Linked DNA regions of Homo sapiens. The protein of the gene in region 1 interacts with the protein of each later gene in a pairwise test. Each region holds a gene or a part of one and is shown in the gene's direction. Other genes may lie near its edges.

What was found.
Region 2: the proteins of FUNDC2 (region 1) and SLC16A10 interact in binary tests that used the Homo sapiens proteins (3 or more experiments, as listed by UniProt).
Region 3: the proteins of FUNDC2 (region 1) and SYT2 interact in binary tests that used the Homo sapiens proteins (3 or more experiments, as listed by UniProt).
Region 4: the proteins of FUNDC2 (region 1) and SLC66A2 interact in binary tests that used the Homo sapiens proteins (3 or more experiments, as listed by UniProt).

The regions. Positions count from the first base shown.
Region 1 is NC_000023.11:155,029,844-155,033,343, forward strand, and holds part of FUNDC2 (FUN14 domain-containing protein 2), read left to right. Parts: intron 1-3,500. UniProt on the Homo sapiens protein: Binds directly and specifically 1,2-Diacyl-sn-glycero-3-phospho-(1'-myo-inositol-3',4',5'-bisphosphate) (PIP3) leading to the recruitment of PIP3 to mitochondria and may play a role in the regulation of the platelet activation via AKT/GSK3B/cGMP signaling pathways.
Region 2 is NC_000006.12:111,227,003-111,230,502, forward strand, and holds part of SLC16A10 (monocarboxylate transporter 10), read left to right. Parts: 3' UTR 1-3,500. UniProt on the Homo sapiens protein: Sodium- and proton-independent thyroid hormones and aromatic acids transporter.
Region 3 is NC_000001.11:202,700,455-202,703,954, reverse strand, and holds part of SYT2 (synaptotagmin-2), read left to right. Parts: intron 1-3,500. UniProt on the Homo sapiens protein: Exhibits calcium-dependent phospholipid and inositol polyphosphate binding properties. May have a regulatory role in the membrane interactions during trafficking of synaptic vesicles at the active zone of the synapse.
Region 4 is NC_000018.10:79,913,654-79,917,153, reverse strand, and holds part of SLC66A2 (solute carrier family 66 member 2), read left to right. Parts: intron 1-674; coding exon of another isoform or gene 675-723; exon of another isoform or gene 724-966; intron 967-1,459; exon of another isoform or gene 1,460-1,764; intron 1,765-3,500.

The DNA.
Region 1 (3,500 bases):
TCTTAAAAATATTGAGTCTTGCAAAACATAAACAGTATATCACTGTTATTTTAGGTCATCTTCAATTTCTTGGCAGTGTTTTGTAGTTTGCAGTGTTTTCTAGTTTACAGTGAACAGGTCTTGTGCATCTTTCATTGAATTTACTACAACATAATTTTTGCAATTAAAATTATTTTGTTTTCCAATTCATCATTTCTAATACACAAAAATTCAAATGACTTTTTAATATTGGTCTTATAATGTGTGACCTTGCTTCTGGTACCTTTTTGTAGATTTTTCTGGGTTTTCTATATACACCGTTATATTATCTGCCAATGAAGACAGAATTATTGTTGTACCTCCTTTCTAATCTCTTTGACTTTTATTTCTTTTCTTTTGTTGCACTGGCTAGGAACTCCAGTACAGTGCTGGGCGAGGTGGCTCACACTTGTAATCCCAGCACTTTGGGAGGCTAAGGAGGGAGGATCACTTGGGGCCAGGAGTTCCAGACCAGCCTAGGCAACAAAGTGAGACCTCCTGTCTACAAAAAAAAAAAAAAAAAAAAAAAAATCAGTTGGTCATAGTGGTGCACAGCTGTAGTCCAGCTACTGGGGAGGCTGAGGTGGGAGGATTGCTTGAGCCCAGAAGTTTGAAGTTGCAGTAATCTGTGATAGTGCCACTGCACTCCAATGTGGGTGATAGAGTGAGACCCTGTCTCAAAACAAAACAAAAAACAGTTGAATAGATTTTAGGGAAAGAAAAGTGTTCCATATTTCACCATTAAGTATGATGTTAGTTGTATATTTTTCATAGATGTCCTATATCAGATTGAAGAAATCCCTTTCTATTCCTATTTTCTACTTTTTTTTTTTTTTTTTTTGAGATGGAGTTTCGCTCTTGTTGCCCAGGAAAATGGGCAGTGGTCTGATCTCGGCTCACTGCAACCTCCGCCTCCCAGGTTCAAGCAATTCTCCCATCTCAGCCTCCTGAGTAGCTGGGATTACAGGCGCCTGCCACTATGCCCGGCTAATTTTTGGTATTTTTAGTAGAGACGGGGTTTTACCATGTTGGCCAGGCTGGTCTCGAACTCCTGACCTCAGGTGATCCACCCGCCTCGGCCTCCCAAAGTGCTTGGATTATAGGCATGAGCCACCACGCCCAGCCCCTATTTTCTACTTTTTATTCTGATTTTTTTCTTTGATTTTAAAGTATAAAATTTCTGTAATTATTATTTTTTTACAGTAAGTATTCATTTAGATTTATCCACCTATTTGCCCATTCCAGTGTCTCATTCCTTTCTGCATTTCCATATTTCCATGTGGCATCATTTCTTGTCGGCCTGAATAACTTTTGTGTACCTCTTTGAATATTACTTCTATCCCATTCTTTCTAATCTTCTGGAACTCCAATTACATATATGTTTAATCTTTTGAGCAGTTTTTGATCATTGTTATTTGCTTACTTCAGCATCTTGATCATCACTGGTTCTGTTTCTGTTTCTGTTTCTTTTTCTTTTTTCTTTTTGGGACTGAGTCTCGCTGTGTCACCCATGCTGGAGTGCAGTGGTGCGATCCTTGGCTCACTGCAACCTTCGCTACCCGCGTTCAAGTGATTTTCCTGTCCCAGCCTCCCGAGTAGCTGGGACTACAGGCACATGCCACCACGCCCAGCTAATTTTTGTATTTTTAGTAGAAACAGGGTTTCACCATGTTGGCCAGGCTGGTCTTGAACTCCAGACTTCAAGTGATCCGTCCCCCAGGCTTTCCAAAGTGCTGGGATACAGGCGTGAGCCACCGTGCCTGGCCTGCTTCTATTTCTTTTATTTAAACAAATTTTGTTTCCTTTATATGGCTTTGCCTTTGCATGGGTAGTAGTCATTTTCTATTGTTTGTTACATTATGTGTGAAAAGATTGTACACACTCCATGCCAGATGAAGTTGATCATTTGAGGTCAATTTTACAGTAAACAGCTTTGAATAGTACATTGCTGACATTTCATATCAGACATTTCTTAGTGCGGTGTGTTTCCAGGGAAACAGGGCTGGGTATAGTAGGGGAGCCTGACATTATCTTCCCACAGAGAAAGGGATTGACATTTTGTTAAGTCTTTCTCCATGCTTGGGCAAATCATTTAACTTTGGAACCTTCATTTCATTTTTTTTTTTTTTCTGAGACGGAGTTTCACTCTTGTTGCCCAGGCTGGAGTGAAGTGGCGCGATCTCGGCTCACTGCCACCTCCACCTCCCCGGTTCCAGTGATTCTCCTGCCTCAGCCTCCCAAGTAGCTGTGATTACAGGCGCATGCCACCATGCCCAGCTAATTTTTGTAGTTTTAGTAGAGACGAGGTTTCACCATGTTGGCCAGGCTGGCCTCAAACTCCTGACCTCAGGTGATCTGCCCACCTTGGCCTCCCAAGGTGTTGGGATTACAGGCGTGAGCCACCACGCCTGGTGCCTTCTTTTTTTTTTTTTTTTTTTTTTTGAGATGGAGTCTCATTCTTGTTGCGCAGGCTAGAGTGCAGTGGTGCGATCTTGGCTCACCGCAACCTCTGCCCCTCAGGTTCAAGTGATTCTCCTCCCGAGTAGCTAGGATTACAGGCATGTGCCACCACCCCCGGCTAATTTTGTATTTTTAGTAGAGATGGGGTTTTTCCATGCTGGTCAGGTTGGTCTTGAACTCCCGACCTCAGGTGATCCACCTGCCTCCGGCCTCCCAAAGTGCTGGGATTACAGGTGTGAGCCACCATGCCTGGCCTTCATTTCTTAATTATAAAATTGAGTTAATAAGTAGTACCTACCTTATTCTGTGGATTAATTAGATGTACATGATTAATGTTTAGCACATTGCCTGGTAAATAGTAAGAGCTCAATTAAACATTACCCTCTCATCTTCATTATCACTGGAGATCCACGTAGTACTTAGAAAATTTGTGGATTACTGAATAGCATTGAGCTACTTCTGAAGAGAAGGGGCAAATTTGTTTCATTTGGGATGCATTACTGGCAGTTTTTTATAGGTCTTTTTGGATTTATTTATTTATTTGAGATGGAGTCTTGCTCTGTTGCCCAGGCTGGAGTGCAGCGGCACTATCTCGGCTCACTGCAACCTTTGCTTCCTGGGTTCAAGCAATTCTTTTGCCTTAGCCTCCTGAGTAGCTGGGATTACAGGTGCCTGCCACCACGCCTGGCTAATTTTTGTATTTGTAGTAGAGATGGGGTTTTGCCATTTTGGCCAGACTGGTTTCGATCTCCTGACCTCAGGTGATTCGCCCACCTCGGCCTCCCAAAGTGCTGGGATTACAGGCGTGAGCCACCGCGCCCAGCCTTTTTTGTTATTTTTAAATTTGAGAGGACAAACTAGAGGACTAATTTGAGATTTTCTAGGTTTTTCCCTGTAATATAGACATTAGTATTTGCTGATTTTAGTCTGATTTTCCAAAATTGCAACTTAGAATAAATTTACTATTTAAAATAGAATATTTGGAGGTTTCTTATTACATTTATGTCTGTTTCTTTAAATAT
Region 2 (3,500 bases), on another chromosome or scaffold:
GTAGTCCCAGCTACTCAGGAGGCTGAGGCAAGAGGATTGCTTGAGCATAGCAGGTCAAGTCTGCAGTGAGCTGTGGTTGCACCACTGCACTCCAGCCTGGGTGACAAAATGAGACCTTGTCTACAAAAAGGAAAAAAAAATTTGTTCTGCTCTACTATACATGCTGACTTTTGTTGATAGCTTGGTCTAAAAAGACTGTCTAGAGCTGAATTTAAGAATGGTTCTGGAGCAAATAATAACAAGGTAGACAAGCAGGCCCTGGGCTCACTATAATTTCATAGCCACGACCTGTTTATTATTAGTTGGCAGAGATTAATGCTTTGTGTTATAAATATACTATAGAACAATAGGTCACGATTCTCAAGAACAAAGCCGAATGCTCGCAGTTAAGTGTGAAGCTTGCATAAGTGTCGGAACCACAATTATGGACCCACCATCAATGTGCATTTTATCAGATGACTCCTCCTGAGACAGTAAAGACTCCTGGAAAATTCATGACATCTTTGAATCACTCAGAAAAATCTTGAAACTCAGGACGTAGTTTACTTAGCTTGCCTTTTTTAAAATTATCAAATTTTAAATCGTAAACTTTGTCTTCACTTCCACACGTTCAAGGACACCTCTTTTAAAGTTCAGTGTTCCATACTAAAGGGGTGTAATCTTGCTTTCTGGGGAAATAAAATTCCCCATGGTACTATATTCCTGACAGATATAAAATAACATGAGGCTACCTCATTTTTGAAATAGATTTCAATATTTTTATTAGTAAGTTGGAAAGACAGTAGGAACAAAATGAAACCTTTCTAAGTACTTGATGACACCCACTTGATCATGACAATTCATCTACCTCCGCTTTCCGTGTCCAGCTGAAAGCCCAGCTGAGTCAACTCCTGCTTCATCAGAAGGGAGCTAATGGTGATTCTGGGATTAAAAAGCAAGGGGGGTGCAAATTGTTAGTGGGGTCAAAATATCAGTAAAATTTCTTAAGTGCTTTGTTCTGATAAACGGATGTAAAAGTAACAAAAAAGGAATAACAACTAATATGGCCTGTGGATCTGACAAAGAAAAACCTGAAGAAATTCAGAATCTAGATACACTTAGATTCTAAATTAGACACACTCAGATTCTAATGAACACTTAGAATGCTTCGCCAGTGGCTTTTCAAGTTACACTGGAAGCTTGATTATGAAAAAGTTTTGTTTTCATTGGCAAGAGGGTAGATGATCAGTGATGACAGATTGTACAGCTGTGCCCAAACCTGACAACTTACACATTAAACTCCTGTAAGAGACACTCCTTCCTAGTAGAACAAGGACTGGGACAATGAATTTTTGACTCACTGGAGTTTTTTAAAATGCTGTTCTTGAGTGTGGCAATAGTGTAGGAGTTAACCCAGTCTACCCAAAGAAGTTGCTTTGCCTTTCAATATGAGTGCTATAAAAAGAGTATTTTGGAGTTCAATGTCCCTAAACATGTATGCGATAGGAACTACCAATATAAAATAACACTTAGAACTCAAATTAGATTGGTAATACTATTTTGGAGCCTGTGATGTATGACTTTTATTCTTTACTAGATATTTTTCAGTATCCGTCATTAGAAGAGTCAGTTTGTTAAATATTTTAAATGTGTAAACACAAAACCTTTCTACTGTGATCTTCCCTAATGAGTCAAAGTATCTTTCATAATTCAGTCTATATTGAAATGTTATTTCAGGAATGGAGGGTTTGTTATTAATAGTGCTGGGCCGGGCACGGTGACTCATGCCTGTAATCCCAGCACTTTGGGAGGCCGAGACAGGCGAATCACCTGAGGTCAGATGTTGGAGACCAGCCTGACCAACATGGAGAAACCCCATCTCTACCAAAAATACAAAATTAGCCGGGCGTGGTGGCTCCATGCTGTAATCCCAGCTACTCGGGAGGCTGAGGCAGGAGAATTGCTTGAACCCAGGAGGTGGAGGTTGCAGTGAGCCAAGATTGCACCATAGCACTCCAGCCTGGGCAACAAGAGCAAAACTCTGTCTCAAAAAAAAAAAAAAAAAAAATAGTGCTGCATTTTGACCCTGGACTATGAACAGACTGTATAGTTGGTGCCTCTTTTTTTTCTACCAAAGATTATTAGATCAAGATTGGTGCTATACTTCATGTTCCTTTCAAAATTATTTTTCTTTTAAAAATATTAATATACAACACAATAGAAAATGTATACAGCCAGCAACGTTATGCATGTTGCATGTTATATACATGACTGAGGAAAAAAGCTCACCTATACAGTGATTATTGAGTTCCAGTATCTAGTTAGAGGTATGCAATTTTTGTTAACATATAAGACTTTAAATTACGAAACTCACAAGAAAATGATCACCAAATGAGAATGTTCTAATGAACACAACCTCCCAAGGTAATAATTTTAAAGAAAAAGTCCCTTGTCAATGTTTCTAGCACAAAGTGAGGGATTTAAATATATTCTGTAACTTTGAGGCAATGTGAAAAAGTTATATATAATAGCTTCCTATTGAGCTGGCTTATGTAGACATTTGGACATTTGAAACTATTTCGCAACTTTCAGGCTAAAATCAGAGTTTTGAGAGTCATCAATCTTAAAACATGGATAATGAGTTATTTGCACAGTTATATTTTTATAATTATTTGAAATTTATCACTGAAAGTATCATTGTTTGTCTTTCAGATTTAACATAAACAATAAGTACTGCGGCTGGGTCACTGTCAGCAAATCTCAGGTCTATGATTTATCAAGGGCTCTCAGCACCATCGTTGGTCTGATTGTGTAACACCTAAGTAAAATAACATATGGGTCTCCTTGGCCAGGCGCCGTGGCTCACACCTGTAATCCCAGCACTTTGGGAGGCCAAGGCAGGCGGATTGCTTGAGGCCAGGAGTTCGAGACATACGGGTCTCTTTAATGTTCTGTAGGTAGGATTCAGATGAATTGAGAATGACAGGTTTCTTTTTCTTTCTTTGTTTCTTTTTTTTTTTTTTTTTTGAGATGGAGTCTTGCTCTATTGCCAGGCTCCATATAGTGGCGCGATCTCAGCTCACTGCAACCTCCGCCTCCCGGGCTCAAGTGATTCTCGTGCCTCAGTCTTCTGAGTAGCTGGGACTACAGGTGCCCACTACCACACCGGCTAATTTTTGTATTTTTGGTAGAGATGGAGTTTCACCATGTTGGCCAGACTGGCCTTAAGTGATCCACCTGCCTCAGCCTCCCCAAGTGCTGGAATTACAGGCATGAGCCACCATGCCCGGCTAGAGAATGACAGGTTTCAGTTGAATTCTTCTCTTTTAAAAGACCCTGACTTAACTGTATTTTATGAGGATTTTATAAATGTAAATTAAGAAGACAATACACACTCTCATTTTCCTAATTAGAAAGACTATGCATTCACAATCCAGTACACTGGATTTGCTCTGGTAACTAATGATAACACTTTTCTACGTTAACATGAGTTATATTTGGCAGAGAGAATGGAAGCTTGC
Region 3 (3,500 bases), on another chromosome or scaffold:
ATTGGGTTGATACAGTGGCTCTGGAATTTAGTAATTAGGAAATATTGCAATTAGAGACGGAATTTACCCATTACTATTCCATGCATCTTAATACAGGGTGTAAGTGGTTGTAACTGTGAGCTTGGCACTAGGCATATGGGAAAATAGAAGTGAATGGAGAAATGGGATGAAGGAAGGAGGGGATGGGAGGAGCTTAACCCTTTCCATACCCGAGTAGACTGAAGGAGCAGCCTGGGGGTGATGCAGGGTTAGGGCGAGCCCAGCAGCCCACCGCATTTGTAAGAGGTGACCGAGGCAAAAATCACAGGCTCCCTCCGGACCTTCTGCTTCTTTAGCTCAGGTAGGATCAGATGCAGGGCTTGGCAGGGGTTAGGAGAGTGGTGATGGAGGCCAAGAGGGAGAGGCTGCAGGGGAGAAGGGCTCTTCTCCCAGTTTCCTGCTCAGCTGTGGAGAAACAGAAAAGAGTTGTAACCACCTGCAGTAGTGTGCATGTGAGAGACAGGAGAGGGTACCTTGTACCTTCATCTCTCCCTCCCCACTTGTTCCTTCCCCCGCCCTTCTTTTTACTCCCTTCCTCACTCCTACTCTTAGCTCCATTTTCCTCTGAAGTCAAATGAGGCATTTGTGGTATTGCAGGGCTGAGCTGGGTAGGGCCATGTGTATGGGCGGCGGAGGGAGGGGAGCGGTGGCCGGGGGTGGGAGGGTGGTAGCGTCAAAGAGGTGGTGCTCATTTTTTCCTTTCCAGACCAGAAATGCCTTCCCCAAGGTCAGCCAGTGCTCTGAGCTCCAAAGACCTTCCCAGAGAACCTCTGCTCCCTAAGGGCTGGGTGGTTTGAGAGAAATCTCTTTTCCTCACCATTGATTCCAGTCTGAACTAATGATCCAGATGTGTTGTGCATGTCCTTCCTCTTCTACAAAGTGACTCGGGAAGCAGTTTTTATGCTATTTGTAGAAAGGAAGCATTTTCTGGAGCGGGGCCTTCTCTGCTTCTGCTACACCTTAACTCCCTAGATTAGAGGAGAGCTGTGAGGCCGCAAGGAGGGGGGCCTGGAGAGGGGCTTGGGCTGAGGGTGGTAGAGGTCTCTGAGGACTGTCCTTGTCTTCTGCCTCCTGTGTTTATTTGGAGAAAAGCCCATTTAACAAATGTACAGGTCTTTACCTCTATCCCTCTTGGGGCTGTCTGCCATGTATCTTTCATTGTACCAACTCAGATGGACCAAGTGACGGCCCGGTCATAGGGCCTAAGATGGGATGTTAGGAGACGGGGTGGAGGCCTGCAAGCAGGAGGAGAGGGGACCACCCAGGCAACCCTCTAGAAGTGCAGGAAGGATGAACAAGAACCTATTGGTTAAGTGCTCTTGGGTCTTGGAGGGAAGCAGACCTAGGACTGAAATCCATCCTCACCACTAGGAGCTAAGAAGAGTTACAGGTAAACCCCAGGAAACTCAAGGGTGGCTGTGGCTAGGATCAGTGTTAGCGGGAAGCATGGAGTTAATTGGCTGTGGGAGGGCTCCCTCTCCCAGTTTGACTCTCCCACGAGTAGGAAAAGGCATCACTTTAATAAGGCTGCCCTGTTTCCAAATCAATCCTGGCATTGCAGGAGGCGAAGGGGGAAGCACAGCTGAGAAATTGGATTAGCTCTTTGATGCTGGGAACTGTGCTGGTTGCTGCTGCTGCAGCTGCAGGAGGCAGGGAAGCATCAAGAACTGAGCCTGCCATTGGCAAGCCAGCCCCAGACGTCTGAGGCTTCCCAGGGAGGCGTGCTCCACCCCCATTAGGTCTCCTACTGGTAGAGGGTGGCAGGGGTGCCCTGGGGCAGACAGTAATAGAAGCCCAGGTCCTCACCACTGCAAACCTGGAGGTGTCTTCGTGCCTCCCCTGGAGTAGATCGTGAGCCCCAAAGACCTCAGGAGGTGAGGCAATGGGGAAGGGGCAGAGGAGAGGCCCCCACAGCATGTTCTGTAGGGCATAACTGAAGCAGCGTGTGTGTGGCTGGGAGTCAGATGGCCTAGGTCAAACCAAGACTGCCACTTCCTGCCTGTGTGACCCTGGGCAAGTTACTTAAACTTTCTGAACTTCGGGGTCCTCATCTGAAAATGGAGACAGTAACACACAGGGAACAGGCCCTTGTGAAGTTTACCTTATAGCAGTAATCAAGATGGGGGCCACGGGTCCCTGGGAGTCCCTAAGAATTTTCAGGGGGGTCCATAAGGTCAAAGCAGTTTCCATGATGGCAATAAAGTTATTTGCCATTCCCATGCTTGACATTGATGGTGCTAAAGCAGTGGTGGGTGAAGCTGCTGGCACCTTACCATGAATCAAGGTAATAGTATCACACTGCACCCGTCTTTGTGTTCTTCCACACTACACACCCGCTAAGCAAAGTAATTGGTAAATAATGAAATGCCATTTTCAGTTAAGAATGTCTTCTTTTCATGAAGCAGCAAAGATTATAATTATATTGAAGCTTGATTCTGGAGTGCACATCTTTTTAATATTCTCTGTGATGGAATGAGAAGTACACATAAAGCACTTCTGCTTCTTACAGAAATATTACACAATAATTTCTCAAGCAACTGAACAGTGCCCATCACCTGTGCATCTGTTTGAGTTGCAGGCTGAACTAGCCATTTTTCCATGGGATACCATTTTATCTGAAAGAACAACCAACAAACTCCAGTTATTCAGACTTGGGTGTTGAGCAGGCATTTTTGCAAAAATGAACGAAGTGAGCTCGTCACTTCCAGAAAAACAACTGGCAGTATTTGTGGCCAATGATAAAATTTAAGCTTTCAAGCAAAAATTAGAATTTTGGAAAACTCACACATATTACTATGAAAAGGACTTTTGTGATAAGATCAGTGGGAATAGTAATAGATGTGATTTGTTAATATTGTTTAATGAAATTCATCAATATTTGAAAGATCTTCACAATTCGGCAAGCCAATATCTTCGAAATGATAAATGAATGATGTCACAAAATCATGCACAGAGGCAAACAAGCATTCCAAGTGCAAGGTTTCAGATTCCCCACTGCAGCCAGTCTTTAAGAAGCTACCACTTGGGGAGCAGTGATGTCATATCAAAGAAAAATATCCACAATGATCTGAAAAGGCTTTATTAAATACCCCTCCCCTTTCCAGTTACATATCTGAGTGAGGTTGGATTTTCTTTCATCTTTCAATCAAAGTAATGTATTGCAGACAGACCGAACACCGAAGTTGATATAAAACTCTAGCTACCTTCTAGTAAACCACACATTAAAGAGATTTGCAATGATGTGAAACAAGGCCTCCTTCTTACTAGATATTTTACTAGAGAAAACGTCTACTATATATTTTTTTGGTCTTGGAAAATATAGTTACTTATTAAATATGTTGTATTAACAGGTAATGAGTTACTATTGTATTTTGAGCTAATTTAGAAATTTCTCAGTTTTAATTTTGAATATGGTAACTATGGATGGATCTAACTTACATAAGAAAACGCTCTTGGAGGGT
Region 4 (3,500 bases), on another chromosome or scaffold:
AGGTCTGCTCTTCTCACACACGGGGAAGGCTCCAGAAACGCCTGTGGAAGGGGGGTCTGTGTGTGGAAGAAACACATTGGACGTGCTTTTCCTGTTCTCACTCACTTCACCACAAGCAGCACACACACTTCCATGTGCAGGCGTCTCCCCAGCACCGAGCAGGCAGTCGGTCCTGCGGCGGGCACCGCCGGTTGTCCTGACCCAGAGACAGCGCCAGATGCCACCCACACTTAGACACCCATCGCAAATCTGGGCCTCTGGAACTTCTGGGCCATGTTAGGGTTCCATGACCCCTCCTTGGGCTCTGTCAGCTTGCTGGAGCGGCTCACAGAGCTCTGGGAAACACGGTTGCTGATATTTTACAAAGAGCATTTTAAAGGACAGACATAAACCGCCGAGTGAGGGGATACACAGAGGGAGCTGTGGAGGGGTCCCCAGGCAGGAGCTCGGTCTCGTGGAGTGGGGCTGCCGCCCTCACGGCACACAGATGAGCTCCTGTTCACTCTCCTGCCGGCTCCCGCAAATTCAGCTCTCCCCGGAGCCTCCCAAAGCCTGTCTACTTGGGAGACCTCATTGGATAGGCGTGATGGACAATGGTGTTGAAATGTGATTGGACCTAAGGGTGCGACGTGAACCCAGCAGGGTCTGTTGAGATTCTTCTGTCCTCTGTGCAGGCTCCTTCCTCCAGGATGTCGGCAGGACCCTCTCTGGAATGAGGGTTAGAGTCCTGCCTGGGCAGGTGAACAGAGGGCAAAAGGTCAGAGAGATTCTGTTTTCTGAGGCCTAAAGCACCCCAACGTCATGACAAGAGCTACAGAAGCACTGTGGGTACGGGAGCACCACGGGTACGGGAGCACCACGGGTACGGGAGCACCACGGGTACGGGAGCACTGCGGCTATGAGAGCACCACGGGTACGGGAGTGCCGCAGGTACAAGAGCGCCGCGGGTACGGGAGCACCGTGGGTATGGGAGGGTACGGGAGCACTGCGGGTACGAGAGCGCCGCGGGTACGGGAGCACCGTGGGTATGGGAGGGTACGGGAGCACTGCGGGTATGAGAGCACCGTGGGTACGGGAGCGCTGTGGGTATGGGAGCGCCATGGGTACGGGAGCACCGTGGGTATGGGAGGGTACGGGAGCACTGCGGCTATGAGAGCACCGCGGGTACAGAAGCACTGTGGGAGTTAGCACCCTGGAACCGTGGATGAAAACCCGTGTGTGTGGGATGCGGATACACTTACACACATGTAAAATAGTATTGGGGGTGCTGTGTGGGCGAGATGGGAGCCGGGGTCATGGTCCTTTGCCTGCATACTTCTCCTTGGCTGCGGAACTTGGAACGTGTCTCAGGGATCCCAGGAGGTGCAGGTGTTCTACCTCTGAGTTTGCCCTGCTCCCTGGGTGAGTGCCAAGCCCCTGTGAGATCACCTGGGCTAACTTCTGCTTTTATAAACCTCAGGTGTGGCTGGGGACGGGATGTCACAGGCACCCCATCTCCCCATCGGGCCACAGGAGGCTTGGCCTCTGTCCCTGCCGGGAGGGCCGGGCAGAAGACGGGCGACCCACACAGCTGGCACGTTGTGAGGGCTTGGATGGAGTCCTGAGGCTGAGGGAGATGGAGCAGTCTCTGCGGAGGAAGTAGGCAGCGAGGTCAGCCAGCTTCAAGTGCGGGACCGCTGAGACCCTGTGCATCCTCGTCAGGAACGGGGACCAGGAGCAGCAGCGTCGGGTCGGCTCGGAGTGATGGAGTGTGTGGTTGTAGTTACGGTAATGAGCGCCCCGGAGAGTCTGTGCACTGAGGCCCTGGCCTGGCCCCGGGGGGATGGGGAGGGGACAGGGCGGGCCCTGGGGGGATGCGGAGGGGGTGGGGCTGGCCCCGCCCGTGCTGCCGGGAGCTTCAGCCCTCCCCAGGCCCAGTTCATCCGGTCTGCGCTTTTAAGAGTGACCATCGGGCGGTTTTCCCACTGGAACACATAAGGCGTTTGCTGCTAGAACGCACAGCCAGCCTGACCCCATGCCTGCCAGCCAGGCAAAGTCTGGGGTCTGCTTGTGGGGACGTTGCCTCTGCATGGCCTGAGGGAAGGTTTTGGGAGGGTTCTCACTAAACGGGAAAGGGAACAGGACCACTCCAGGCCCAGCCTTTGTGCCGCACGTCCTTATTTCTGCTGCTCTGACGCCGCGTTTCACCTTGGCCCTGGGTTTTAGTATCACCCGAGTGTGAATTCTGGAGGCCCAGCAGCTGCCTTCCACAACCTGAGACGCCACCTGGCAGCCTGGGCAAGGCAGGGCCTGCAGGGCTAGGGCCGGCGACCTGGGGGCTGTTCCTGAGGCTCCCTCTGGGCAGGGCTGAGTCTGGAGCCGGCTCCACTTGCGCGTCTGAAGCTCCGTCTCTTTGGGCCTGTGGGCCCTGCCCACCTTCCTCCCTTGGCACTGCAGCCTGTGGGGCACAGGGTCCCCACCTCTGCCCCCCTTGCTGTGTGGTCTTCTGGCTTCTCCGCATGGGTCCAGGCCACCGCTCCGTGGATCTTCAGCCCTCCCCGGCCTGGGTTCCACTCGCTCTCCAGACGCAGCTTGGGCAAGGGGGTGTCTCTCCCCTTTGCCACTTCCTGGGTGCTCCTGTGGTACCTGCCTGTTCCTCCGGGGCCACGGCAGCCTTGGGGTGGGCTGGAGTGACCCCCCACTTCCTGCTGTCAGACCACCCCCCATCTGGAGGCAGGTCAGAGACGTCTCAGGTTCCTTTGTGCTCCGATCTGCCTGATGGGGGCGTCGTGGTATCCCCAGCCCTGTCAGGAGTTGTGATTCTTGAAGCCATTGTGGGTAGTGGTTTCTGAATGCAGGTTTGATAGATCATGTGTGCTTCCTGTATAATCTCCAGGGTCGTGTTTAAGATGACGTATTTAAAATGTGCACACACACGTACTTAACAGATACCCAAAAAACCAAGACTTTGGGCTGGGCGCGGTGGCTCACGCCTGTAATCCCAGCACTTTGGGAGGCCAGGGCAGGTGGATCACAAGGTTAGGAGTTCAAGACCAGCCTGGCCAAGATGGTGAAACCCTGTCTCTACTAAAAATGCAAAAATTAGCTAGGTGTGGCAGGCGTCTGTAATCCCAGCTACTCAGGAAGCTGAGGCAGGAGAATCACTTGAACCTGGGGGGCGGAGGTTGCAGTGAGCCAAGATCGCGCCACTGCACTCCAGCCTGGGCAACAGAGTGAGACTCCATGTAAAAAAACAAACAAGACTTTGGTGGCGAATGGTGACATGAGCCTGAAACGTGACAGCCTGAACTTCAGCTCCTTTTCTCTGGGGACCTGCTAGTGCCACTGCCCTAGGTGAGGGAGGCGTAGATGCTGCCTGGAATCTTCCCTGGGACCCACAGCCTCAGCTCCACATTAAACCGAAGGTCTCTAGGATGTTTGATAGGAAGTGACTCAAGAATTCCCGAGTTGATCTCGTAGCAGCCCTGCTTCTGGAAAGTCCTGTGTCTCGTGTACTTGCA